Linked DNA regions of Homo sapiens: region 1 is linked to region 2. The links come from fine-mapping of genetic effects on plasma protein levels. A gene starts in region 2. The other region holds a variant in brackets. All regions are shown on one strand. Distances are between the middles of the regions.

The links. A credible set is the group of variants that fine-mapping cannot tell apart. PIP is the chance, under the fine-mapping model, that this variant and not a neighbour inherited with it causes the effect. The UK Biobank Pharma Proteomics Project read protein levels with antibody pairs (Olink). The fine-mapping took linkage between variants from a reference panel, not from the people measured, so its PIPs are less certain.
Region 1: its variant is the best candidate, but not a certain one, in a credible set for the plasma level of the FOXO1 protein (UK Biobank, PIP 0.54).

Annotation. Positions count from the first base shown.
Region 1 is chr13:40,605,671-40,614,198 of GRCh38, forward strand. All of the region lies in intron 1 of FOXO1 (forkhead box O1), which reads right to left. Among named protein-coding and RNA genes, the nearest start is that of FOXO1, 57 kb to the right of the region's middle. RefSeq lists an enhancer at 7,626-7,675. The variant A/T (reference allele first, on the strand shown) is at 4,551.
Region 2 is chr13:40,663,502-40,667,499 of GRCh38, forward strand. FOXO1 (forkhead box O1) reads right to left here and starts at 3,140. Exons shown (of 3, transcript NM_002015.4): 1 at 2,082-3,140. The coding sequence starts at 2,711. RefSeq lists silencers at 879-958, 1,259-1,768, 2,289-2,338, 2,429-2,568, 2,799-3,328 and an enhancer at 3,979-3,998.

The sequences.
Region 1 (8,528 bases), 56 kb before region 2:
TTCCTGGTTCCAACCCAATGGTGACCTTTTCTAGCCCCTAAACCCCCAAGGTACTCCCTTTTCCACCTCTCTAGTCAGTTGCCAGCAGTACGTATGAATCAGTAGCTACGTAAGCCCTGAACCTGCTTGGAGGTGTGGAAAACTAGTGTGTGAAAGAAGGCCACAAATTATACCAGTAATGCTGCTGACACTAACCACTAAGAGATACCTCTTATCAGCTGACAAGTATTGAAAAGTAGTAGGTATGAGCCTAATAATCTAGAAAACGTACATCGACCAAGTAATAATGCAAATATCAACTAATCTGGGATGACAAAAAAAAAATTATAACAATAATGTAGTGGAATTTACTGAAAGGCTTGTTCTACTTAACCAAAATACTGTAGAATAACAATTTTTCCAAATGTTATCTAGCAAGATAAAGCAAATGTAAAAATTGAAGCTCAAAATAACCTCCACCACTTTAGTGACCAAGGTGGTTTTAAACCTATCAAGTTGACAGTTTTCCAAACTGAGTTTCTATCACTCTTCAACACAGACTACACCATATCTCTCTCATCACCCAGAGCTATATAGCCTAAAACGGACTACTTCAGGGACCAGCAACATGGTTGGTTGGTTTCTTTCTTTCTTTTTCTTTCTTTCTTCTTTTCTTTAGAGATGGAGTCTCACTCTGTCACCCAGGCTGGAGTGCAGTGGCGCAATCTTAGCTCACTGCAACCTCTGCCTCCTAGATTCAAGTGATTCTCCTGTCTCAGCCTCCTGAGTAGCTGGGATTACAGGCACGTGCCACCACCACACCTGGCTAATTTTTGTATTTTTAGTAGAGATGGGGTTTCACCATGTTGGCCAGGCTGGCCTCAAACTCCTGACCTCAAGTGATCCGCCCGCCTCGGCCTCCCAAAATGCCAGGATTCCAGGTGTAAGCCACCGCGCCCGGCCATGAAAAGGGGGTTTTAAGTGACAGCACAGCATGTTATTTTCTATGGTGGGGCTGGGGGAGAGGCAGGGTGCCAAAAGCGACTGAGGAGGGCTGTAAGAGTGATTGTCCATACTAGACACTACTTGCCAGATGTCAGCCCATCTCATGCCCCTCTGCTGTCCCTCCATCCTCCCCAAGTCATAGTGCAGCCTGCAGGTCCCTGCAACTCCCACATCCAACTTCCTCATTGCCATTCCTATCTCATCACATCCCTGACCCTGCTTTAAATTCCTCAGTAACTTCCTTTTTCTATCAGGTAAAGACCAAAGTCATATCATGCAATGCTCTCAGATCTAACCCTGTCTGCCTCTGAAGCTTTGTCTCACTTTGCCTTTCCCTTCAGACTTTGTAGTTAGGCCCCCAAAAAATATTGTGCCACTTCACCCTTCCCAGAAAGCTCTCTATAAGCCCGCACATCTGCCCAACTTCTCCCCACTCCTCAATCAAGACCAGACCCAGGTTTCTTCCAAGTGAGATCTCCCTATGTCTCCCACGTGGCTCTTCTATGCCTTGGTTGGGCCTCTGGTACAGAAGGCACAGTGCAATTCTGTTTACACATCTGTCTTCCAGACAAAAACCGGAGGGCGTTGCAACCATGCTTCCTCGTGCTACACCCGGAGCGCCTAGCAAAATGCTGGGGACACAGCATCAAATGTCTATGTCAATCTTGCTTGGATGAACACTCCCAATCCTCTGAAGCAGAAAGCTGTCCATCCTAGGCAATAAATATAAGCACCAGAAAAACATCATTCTTCTTGGATACACTTTCAGGCTAGGGAATTGTTCCCCTACTAATTTCCCACTTGGGGTTTCTTCCTTCAACCATTTGTTCCTAGAGTGCTTTACTATAAGTCAGGCACTGTACTAGATGGGTGGGAGGGAGGGAGGGAAATAAAGTTATCAGGGAGCTTAAAGCCTATAGGGGAGATTCTATAACCCCAAACACAGCATTCGACAGTCATTACTCCACACTATTTAGTATTGTACACATAGGTAATACATCTCTATACACTCAATGTTTTTACTTAACCCCATTTGCCTACTAAAGTCATTCTGTTGCCTTGAGCCTACACCAACACAAAGGTGAGAATGGAGGTGCCAATAAATGAAACCTGTTATCTACAGATAAGAAATCAAACCTCAATTCTAGTGGTAGAAAGAACTAAGGAGACGGGCTAGCCCAGTATCTTCATTTTACAGAACAAGGGGCCCATGACAGAAACAGGTTACATGAATTGCCTGGGGTTCCCCCAATTGGTACACTGCTGAAACAGATTTTGAACCCAGATCTCTTAAGTCTTACCTCAATTCACGTACCCTCTTTCTTGTCCCTTACCCAGCTGTTAGTAACATGTCTCTCATGGTGTGTTACATTCGGTCCAACATCCATATGAAAAACTGAACTAGTGTTTCTTGGGGCAGAGGAAATGACAAAAGCCAAAGGCAATAAGACACCACCATATAATCTCATAACCAAAAGCTACCCTCAGCTGCTAACATTTTTAGCATTTGTGGTAGGACAGAATTATTGGTCCCAATTCTTCACTCCCTGGTAATTGTATTTCTATGGCCTCTTGTCGGTAAAGTACACTTTTCTCCTTCTTGATTCAAGAGATGCTATGGCTAATGGGATGCTAGGGAATCTGATGCTGGCAGAGACTTGAAACATACTCATACAGTCAGGCTTGCCCTCTTGCACATGACACTACCATGAGAAGAACTTACCCTAGTCGCTCACCTTCCAGCCAAGGCCTCAAAGTGAGACACATGGAGTAGGCTGCTGCAGGGAATCTCATACATGTGAGCAAGAAATAAATACATACAGTTGCATGCCACTGAGACTTTTGGGGTTATTTGTTATGGAGCAAAAGCTAACTGATACAATGTGTTATCCTTCAAGTCAAAAATGCATATTTCTCCTTGTCTGTCACTAATGTAACCCCTCAGAGTATTAGCTTGTTGTTAAAGTAGCAATCACCTTATTCTTTTTCTATTTTACATTTTATTGATTTCTCCAGGCTATCTTTTTTTCAGATTCTCTTCAGAAAAGAACATTGTCTACAAATTGAAGTGTCATCTCCAAGGCTTTTCCTGATTCTTAAGGTAGGTATTATATAAGAGGGTGGCAACAAATGTTATCCTTTCAGTGTCACGTCACAAAATGCCTCCTTTTTCCTTCAAAGCAGTAAAGTAAGATTTGTCATGATCATGGTTAATTTATTAAAGATAATTTTCAGCTCATATGATGGATCCTAGAGATAGGTGGGAAGGGGGTACGTGTATCTTCACTGCAGGTACTAAAGATTTTTAAAAGCTGTTTTAAAACCTTCAGCTGAAATAAATGTTAAAATACAATGACTTTTGGTATTTTTAATGGGCCTCCAAATCAGGGTAACTTTAAACAATGACATTCAATGTAAATGTCCTTCAATTGTGCCATTTTCCCATTCCAGCACACAGCTCAATGTCATTAAAACTACTCAAATTTAATTAATTATCGTTATCATTTGTAATTTTTGAAGCTCAGTAGACCTGAAATAAAATTACGTTTGGATGACAAAACATATTATGCAATAAAGTCATCTGGAGGGTAGAATACCAAACTGGGAGCCTACTGCTTCTTTTTTCTTCTGCTTGCCATGACAAGGTTAATTTGTTTGCTTTCTTTATTCTTCCTTCTGTTTTACAAAGGAGAGGCATACACTTACTTTGGAAAGGATGTAATTTTTTATATCAGTCTACACTGTATTAATATGCCTAGAATGTGTATAGAATTATGCATGAGTATTTGTAAATGTAAGTCTGTTTACTCAAAACCATAGAAAATACAGGTTTCAGTGCATCCTTCTTTTGATGTCAAAGGAGTATGTGATTTTCTCAGGAAAATGAAGGCTAATTTCTTCAATTCTGGACTGTAGATAATTAGGATTGACTATAAAAACAAGAGTTAAACATGTCTTCCTATTTTTGAACCAAGGCCAGTAGAATAGCACTGTCTTCAAGGAAAACTTTATTTGCATATATTCAAACTCACGCCTAAAGAAATTCTTCAGGGTGGGGGGGAAAAAAATTCCTCAAGGCCCAGGATTTTAACCTGGAGCCCATGGACAGAACTCAAGGGATTCATGACCTTGGATAGGAAAAAACACATTTTTATGAGCCGCTCATTAAAATTCAGCATTTTTTCCAATTACGAATGTAGGCAACACATCACAGTATTGGCAGTACCTGTGACTTTGACACCAATAGAAATCGGATGCCTTCACATTACAGTTGCTGTCAAAAACTCAAAATATTGTTTATTCATCTCCACCTCAAAATTATGGTGACCCGCCACTAAATATTATTTAATGTATTGATAAAGAAGCACATCTATTACCCTACGACAATTTTCACAACTGTATTCGACGTAACTGCTTTCCTTTGCAATCACATGTAATTTAATATTATGTACCCTGCGACACTGAGGACACGCTGCATCCACCTGCCACACCCTCACTCCTCAGCTGCCCGTTTTTATTAACTAAGGACATCCGGGGTGCTTTTTGTGGAAGCATGAGCATACTGT[A/T]CTGAGGGAAGGGAGAGGAGATAACAACCTATTTATATATGTCTATAACAGTGAAATTTTAAAAAATGGTAATTATGATGAGGCATCTGTCTATTTGGCACCATCTAAAACCAGCAAGCAATAATTGTACAACAAGGGGGTGTTTAGTGTGTGAGGTTTAGGACATTGTGCCAGAAAACCTAAAGCATCCAAGTTGTAAAACATTGTAATAAGCAGGTAATCCTAGGCCCAGCGTCCAAGTTTCTGCCCTAACCTGTTCCTTATGATTATGATTTTAAAACATCCCAGTGTCAGCAGGTTCACTGTGAGTCAGACCTGAAATAATAAATGGCTTATTTTCCATCCTGATGGAGGAAATACATCATGGCTCATTGTGGCTCACTTAACTGAGGCTGTTTTTACAGGAAAATATAAAAATAACTAAGTCATTCTGCCTTACCATTTTTATTTTAAATTTTTTTATTAACAAAGCTCTATACTACAATCCATTTTAAAAAGAAAAAGCATGTTTCAATATAGGCTATAAAAACAATAGCTCACAAATATCTAGAAGGAAAAATAATATAAACTCAGAAAATTATGCTTGTAACCAACGAATACCCTGCTTTGCCAGGATAACCAATTAAATGCATTCACTACATCAAGATAAACTGCTGCTTATTTAAATGGTCAACCACATGGTAATGCTGTTAAAAGACAGCCAAAATCTTCTACCAGTATTCATTAAGGTTGCCAGGCCTTAAAAACCACATGTATCTATACACATACATCTACATAAATTCCAGAATGCAAAGTCTTACTTGTTGCAAACTCTCAACTGAACGTGAGGAGAAAAGTTGTATCTTCATCAAAAATAAATGCTTATTCAGTGGCATCAATACTGCACATAGGCTGTAAAACTCATCGTGACTGAGGATAAAATGAGTGAGCAATATATTCTCAGAACAATGAGTTTTGTTCTACCCTGTTACATAAACAAGTTCTATGTGACCTCACGGCTTTTAGATATGATTTATGACACCATGTCAGAATGCAATCTTATTTGTTACCCAAAACTGTGCTAGAGTGCTACCCCTATGGTGGGTTCAGACATTATTTAAAACAAACAAACAAATAAACAAACTTAAGACAGCACCACTGTAACCAATACAAGGTTACTAGGTACACACAGTGTGTATTTCAGGATATGACCAATAAATTTAGAATCATATATAAGGTCCTCAGTGTGTAATACAAATTTGAAGATAAAAATATTCATCGCTTCTGCTGATTTCGTACATTAAAACAGTTACGCCATAATTCTATCCCATCTCCTTGAAACAGTGATGCAGAGGGGAACCCTGCTAGAGGGGTTCACGTGGACTTAAATGCCCATTCCCTCCTCACCTGACTCTTCTTGTGCCCCTAAACATGGATGGCATGATAGGGAAAGAACACATCTAAAACACACGGAAGCTGTGTTTGGGAGAGAGGACGGTGCTCAGCACTCTCTCACGAGCCCTGTTATTTCCCTCCTCCCATCACAGCTACAGTACTGTCAACAGTAAAATGTAAAAACCCTAAAACCTAGGCTGGGCACAGTGGCTCACGCCTGTAAATCCCAGCACAGTGGGAGGCCAAGTTGAGTGGATCACTTGAGCCCAGGAGTTCAAAACTACCCTGGGCAACATGGCAAAACCCCGTCTCTACTGAAAATACAAAAAATGAGCCATGTGTGGTGGTGCATGCCTTTAGTCTCAGCCACTGAGGAGGCTGAGGTGGGAGGTTTGTTTGAGCCCAGGAGGCGGGGGTTGAGCCAAGATCACGCCACTGCACTCCAGCGTGGGAGACACAGTGAGACCCTGTCTCAATAAATAAATAAACAAACAAATAAAAATAAAAATAAAAACTCTACTAGAGGGCTAGGTTTTGCCCTGCCTTTTTACAGGCCTACTGAAAACAAGGTCAGTAGACTGAAAGGGCCAGCAGAAAACACAATGACTCAAGGGTTACAGTTATCCATCTTCCATTTATCAGCTGTCATGCCATAGAGACCTTGGATCTCCCCAACAAAATCCAGGCTTCCCCACCTCTCCTACAGGGTTCTAGAAAGCTCAAATGGACAGAGCACAGCAGGCAGACAGTATATCACAGACACAGCTACGAAGATAAAGTGCCATGTATGATGGCAAAAATGTTACAGGGTCTCCATGAAATTATCAGGATGACACCTCAGGTTTTTAACCTAAGAAAACAGAAGAGACTTGTGTGTGTGTTACACATATGTACGTATACACACACGTGCGTTCGCAAGCATGCCTAAGGAGATTTCTTTCAAAAAGAAGGCTGGCCCAACAATTTCAGTGGCCAAGAAATTTTATCATCCCAGGCACAACATTTCTTGTTTGCTTGATGTCAATTCCATGTACAGTAGTCCTTCCCTGAGCTTTCACTTTCCACCTTTTTGAGTTACCTGCAGTACAACACAGTAAGATATTTTGAGAGAGAGAGAAACCACATTCATCTATCTTTTATTACATTATACTGTTATTATTGGTCTGTTTTATTATTAGTTATTGTTGTTAATCTCTTACTCTGCCTAATGTATAACTATCATAGGTATGTAGGTATAGGGAAAAACGTAGTATACACAGGGTCTGATACTATCCAGTTTCAGGCACTCACTGTGGGTCCTGGAACTATCTCCCTCCTATAAAGGAGGACTACTGTGTATCGGTTTATCTACAATTTTAATGGCAACGTTTTAAAAGAGGAATGACCCACAAACTCCACTTTCCCTGCCCTCGTATTCCTTTCACCAGCAAGACAGAGGTGAAGAATTAAACTTTAATCAGCCACAATTTGAAGAAGGCTGTAAGATGATCTCCAGTATTTGAACCTTGAAATCTGGGTAAAAAAGAACACCTCATGCCTGTAAACCCCATCTCTCCATCAGGATTATCACTTGGTCAATAAGAGATAGCAAAGTCAAAAGTGTCCTCTTTTTGGAGGTGGTGTGTGTGTTGGAGGGCAGGGTCTCTGTAAGAACAGCTATAAGTAAAAGAGATATGGTGAAAGGTCACTAGTCTGTCATCTCTCTCTTCCTGAGGCACATAAGGATGTGACATAGTTACATGTGGTTTGCAAGAGGGCTCCTCCCTTTACAATCTGCTTCTCCGACACCCCTAATCTAATCAATTTTTATTTTCAGTTTGGTGTTTAAAAAAAAAAAAGTTACCACACAGAAAGGACTTTAAGTCTGAAATGTTAATCACATCAAAGTCTGGAACTTCAAAGTTGCAGTTCCCACACCAAGAGCAGCTCCGGTCCCCATCTGCAGTTTGAGTGTTAATCTAGATGGTAGTTTCTCTGATTTAAGACCTTGTTTTATGTGTACAGGGAGTGTGGCCAAGTCACAGGCACTACGAATTTGAATTTCCTGACTCTCACTTGGTTTAGTGGATGATTACGGCGTCAGCATGTGCATTTGAAACAGGTCCCCAAAGAGGAAGCACATTCAGGTCACTTGAACAAACACAAGCGTGAGCCACACCAGAGCCCTCCAGCTGACTGCCTAGCAGCAGTTACACGGTCTCCCATCAGGACCCTGTGACCAGAACTACCAGGCAGCTTTCATGGAACTGAAGTTGGATCCTCACGGCTGGTACCATTAAATGGCTTGTTTTTCTAAGAACCTGTGAAGAGCTTTAACAGACAGAAGAAAGTAAATCAGACCTCTCCTTAAAAAGAAAAAATAAAGGGTGAAAAAACTAGCACTCAACCCGGTATTTTAACTACTGGCAGTTGCCTTTCTTCTACCATGCAACACAGTGGTTTCCAAAGGTATTTTCCAGAAGTTCTGGTTCCTGATTTCAGTGGCTACTCTATTTCAGGAATAAGGACAAAACTCAATACAGAGACAAATGTTGGAAAAGTCCCAGGGAACTAACCTGGCACCAGCAGTTCTGTGCAAGTCCACCCGGCCAGGCCAGGATGCAT
Region 2 (3,998 bases):
TTTGAATGCAAAAAAAGGGGGGAGGATTTTTTTTTTAAATGGCTAATACTCTGTAACAGCTGAAGTGGAATTGATAGATGAGCAAGTAAGTCAAGTACTTAAATTCAAATGTTAAGTAAAACAAGATTTGGCAGACAATTTCGATTTTGTGACTTAATAGAATATATGCTGAACTTAACGGTAAGAAGGCACTTTACTTTTTTGAAACACTTGGTAAAATTGCATGTAATGCCTGGTAATGAAGCGATAAGTGATACCTTTACTCTAAAACACACTTTGGAAAAAATAAAATGAATCTTGAATTCCTTCTAAAGGAACTTCAATAAGGTGTGAGTAACTTAACCCTTTTGACACGCATTAACCACAGGGATGACACTGTGTGTAAAATAACCTTGGTGTTAACAACTGCGCAGCAAAGACCAATCTTTATTATGCCGTGGAGTCCAATATGAGAGGCGAAGAAAGGTATGTTTTAAAAAGGTGTTTAGCTCGGCCGGGAACGGTGGCTCACGCCTGTAATCCCAGCACTTTGGGAGGCCGAGGCGGGCCGATCACGAGGTCAGGAGATCCAGAACATCCTGGCCAACATGGTGAAACCCGGTCTCTACTAAAAACACAAAAATTAGCTCGACGTGGTGGCTCGTGCCTGTAATCCCAGCTACTCGGGAGGCTGAGACAGGAGAATCGCTTGAACCAGAGAGTCGGAGGTTGCAGTGAGCCGAGATCGCGCCACGGTACTCCAGCCTGGCGACAGAGCGAGACTCCGTCTCGGAGGAGGGGAGGGAGGTGTTTAGCTCAACTAGACAGCCTTTACAGCAATTCCGCCACCGGTGACAGTGAGAAACTGTCAGCTTGGGGAGGCCGCGCCACGACTGGACCCCGCCCCCGGGAAGCCTCCCCGGAGCCGAGGGCCCCCGGGCCTTCTCCTCGGAGTCGGGAAGTGCCTGCCCCCACGCTAAGTCTCTCCTGGCCACGCTCTGAAAGGCAAAAATGGCAAAAATCCTCCTTCAAGGCACCGCTCCCTCGACGCGCACCGCCACTCCGACTCCCTCAAAACATTGGTCGCAAAGCCCCCCCGCCTGGTCCTCCATGCTCAAGAATAGGGTGGCAAGGCAGGAAAAGACTCACACATCCCAGCCCCCGGCCCCTCAGGGCAGCCTCTGTGTTTCTAACTAAAAGCCTCCTACCAGGGGCAAGACCAAGTTCGGGCGCTTCCCCGCATGGAGAAACGCTGGCCCCACGGCGCCCGGCCCCGACGCGCTGGCCCTTTAAAGGCGCGGGCTTCCTGCGCCCGGGGCCCCTCCCACGCCACCGCCACCGCCACCGCCACCGCCCGCGCCCGCCCCCGCCGAGGGTCACACTTGAACTTTAGCTCGCCCCGCGCGGCCAGGCGCCGGCGCTCCGCAGGCGGTGGCCGCCCCTTCGCACGTGTCGGAGGCACCACCTCGGGCTCGGGACGCCGGGCCCCCGGCACTCGAGGCCACTCCGGAGAAAACCAAAACAAAGCAAAATGCGCACCGCCTCCAGAAACTGCCCGGCAGGCCCTGCACCGTCCCCGGCCGGTCGCGCCCTGCCTGTCCCCTCCACCTGCAGCCCGGTCCCGGGGCAGCGAGGCTCCGGGGCCCCTCGCCGCGCCCTCCCCCGCCGCGCCCGGCGGAAACAGCTCCGCGGCGCGGCCGGAGAGAACCCGCCCTCCCCCCGCGGAGGTCCGGGAGGGAAGGGGCAGCCGAAGCAGTCGGCGCGGGCCGGGGGTTGCCGCTCCCAGCGAACCCCTTTCTCCTTTCACTGGCAAACTTTTCGGCCTCGCTCTGACGTCCACTTCTTGGCGCACTTTCTTTACTTAGTTCCCCAACGAGCCCCTTACCGCGTCCCACGCGAACTCCTGACTGGCGCGCACGCACACCTACTGCCGTCCCCGACCGGACCCGGGCGAGGCCACCGCGACCACCGCTTCTCGCCCGCCCTCCTGGGAACGCGCTGCCCTCCTGCTCCGCACCTTCAGGCCGAGCAAACCTGCACAGCTGCGCCCTCGCCTGACCCACCGCGCCCCCAAGGTCCGGCCGCGCGCCGAGTCCACTCACCTTCCAGCCCGCCGAGCTGTTGCTGTCACCCTTATCCTTGAAGTAGGGCACGCTCTTGACCATCCACTCGTAGATCTGCGACAGCGTGAGCCGCTTCTCCGCCGAGCTCTCGATGGCCTTGGTGATGAGGTCGGCGTAGGACAGGTTGCCCCACGCGTTGCGGCGGGACGAGCTGCTCTTGCGCGGCTGCCCCGCGAGCGGCCCAGCGGCGGCGGGGGGCACCGGCGGGTGCTGCGACAGCGGCCCGGGCGGCGGGGGCTGCGGTGGCGCTGGGTGCAGGCAGCCCGCCTCCGGGCCCTGGAAGTCCCCGCACAGCCCCCCGGTGGCGGCCGCGGCGGCCGCCGCCGCCACCGCCGCCGCCACGGAGCCGGGCGCCTGCGGGAAGTCCTCGCTCTCCTCCAGCAAGCTCAGGTTGCTCATGAAGTCGGCGCTGACAGCGGCAGCCGAGGCCGAGGGCAGGCCCGCCGCGGCGTCGGGGTTGGCAGCCGCGCTGCCCGACGGCGCCGGGCTGGAGGTGGCCGAGTTGGACTGGCTAAACTCCGGCCTGGGCAGCGGCCAGGTGCACGAGCGCGGCCGGGGCAGCGGCTCGAAGTCCGGGTCGATCTCCACCACCTGAGGCGCCTCGGCCATGGTGACCCCCGCCCCTCCCCCAGCCGCAGGAGAGCCAAGAGGGGGAGAACGCAGCACTGGGGGCGGACGGGGAGGGGGCGCGAAGGGACGGTCCGAGATTTGGGGGAACGAAGCCGGTGCGGCGAGCGGACGGAAACTGGGAGGAAGGCGCGGCGGAGTGGAAGCGCGAGCCCAGAACTTAACTTCGCGGGGCCATCCACATCGAGGCTCCTCGGGGTCCGCCGCACGGACTGGACGGCCGGCCAGAGCCGCCGGGCCGGGGCAGAGCCTGCGCCGCGCTCCAGCTGACAGGGCCGCGGACGGAAGGACGGACGGACGCCGCGGGCCGCTTGCTCTCCCCAGCGGCGCGCCCGCTGCGCTGCTGCCTGTTGAATGTGGCGGCTGCGGCAGCGGCTGCTGCGACTACCAGGCCGCCCGACTTACGGGATCTGCCGCCGCCCCCCGCCCGCGGCGGCGCGCGCGCCGGCCCGCCCCTGACCGACAGCCCGCGCGGCCAATGGGCATGCGGCACCGCCGCCCGGGCAGCCAGTGGGCGCCGGGCTGGGTGGGGCCCGGTTTTCCACGGGGAGGCGGCGGTGGGCTGGTGGGGGGTAGTGGGGTGTTTTTCTCTTTCACACACTCACCTCCTTTTTTTTTTTTTGGATCTCTATTATTTTCTGGTAATTCTCGAGTGTTTCTGTGATTCTCTCGCCTTCTCAGTGTTTTGATTGCTAGGAAGCAAACCAGCGTGGAGGCGCCGGCGACACTTTGTTTACTACGGAGCAGCAGAGCCGAGTACTCGGGAAGCCCGGGTGGGAGGAGGCGCTCGCTGCTCCCTGACCTCCGCTGCGGGCCGAGCCCGGCGGGCTGGCAGGGCAGGGGGCCGAGGGCCGGGGGCGCGGGGTGGGCGGGCGGAGGCGGCCGCGAGGAATTCTACTCAATCGCTCCCTCCTGGCTCCACCCACGATGTCTTTGCTGAACGACGTGGGGAATCGGTGGGTTTTGTTTTGGTTTAATGTTTTCTTTCGCTGCGATCTGTCAAGTCCTCCGGCCCCCTCGCGAGCGGCACACGCCCCCCACCCCCGGCGCCGCGGCTCCTGCAGTCGAGTCCGCGCCGAGGGACCCTTCTCCGTGCCCACCGGTCCGCACCCCCGGGCTCAGCCTGTGCCATTCGGTCTAGCCAGAGGCGCGTCACCCAGCCGGCAGCCCCCAGCCGGATTCACTGTATTCTTGACCTTTTTTAAAATGCTAGAAATGAGGAACAGGGGCTCCGGCGCGGGGAGGAGATTATCTGGCCTCCCTGAACAC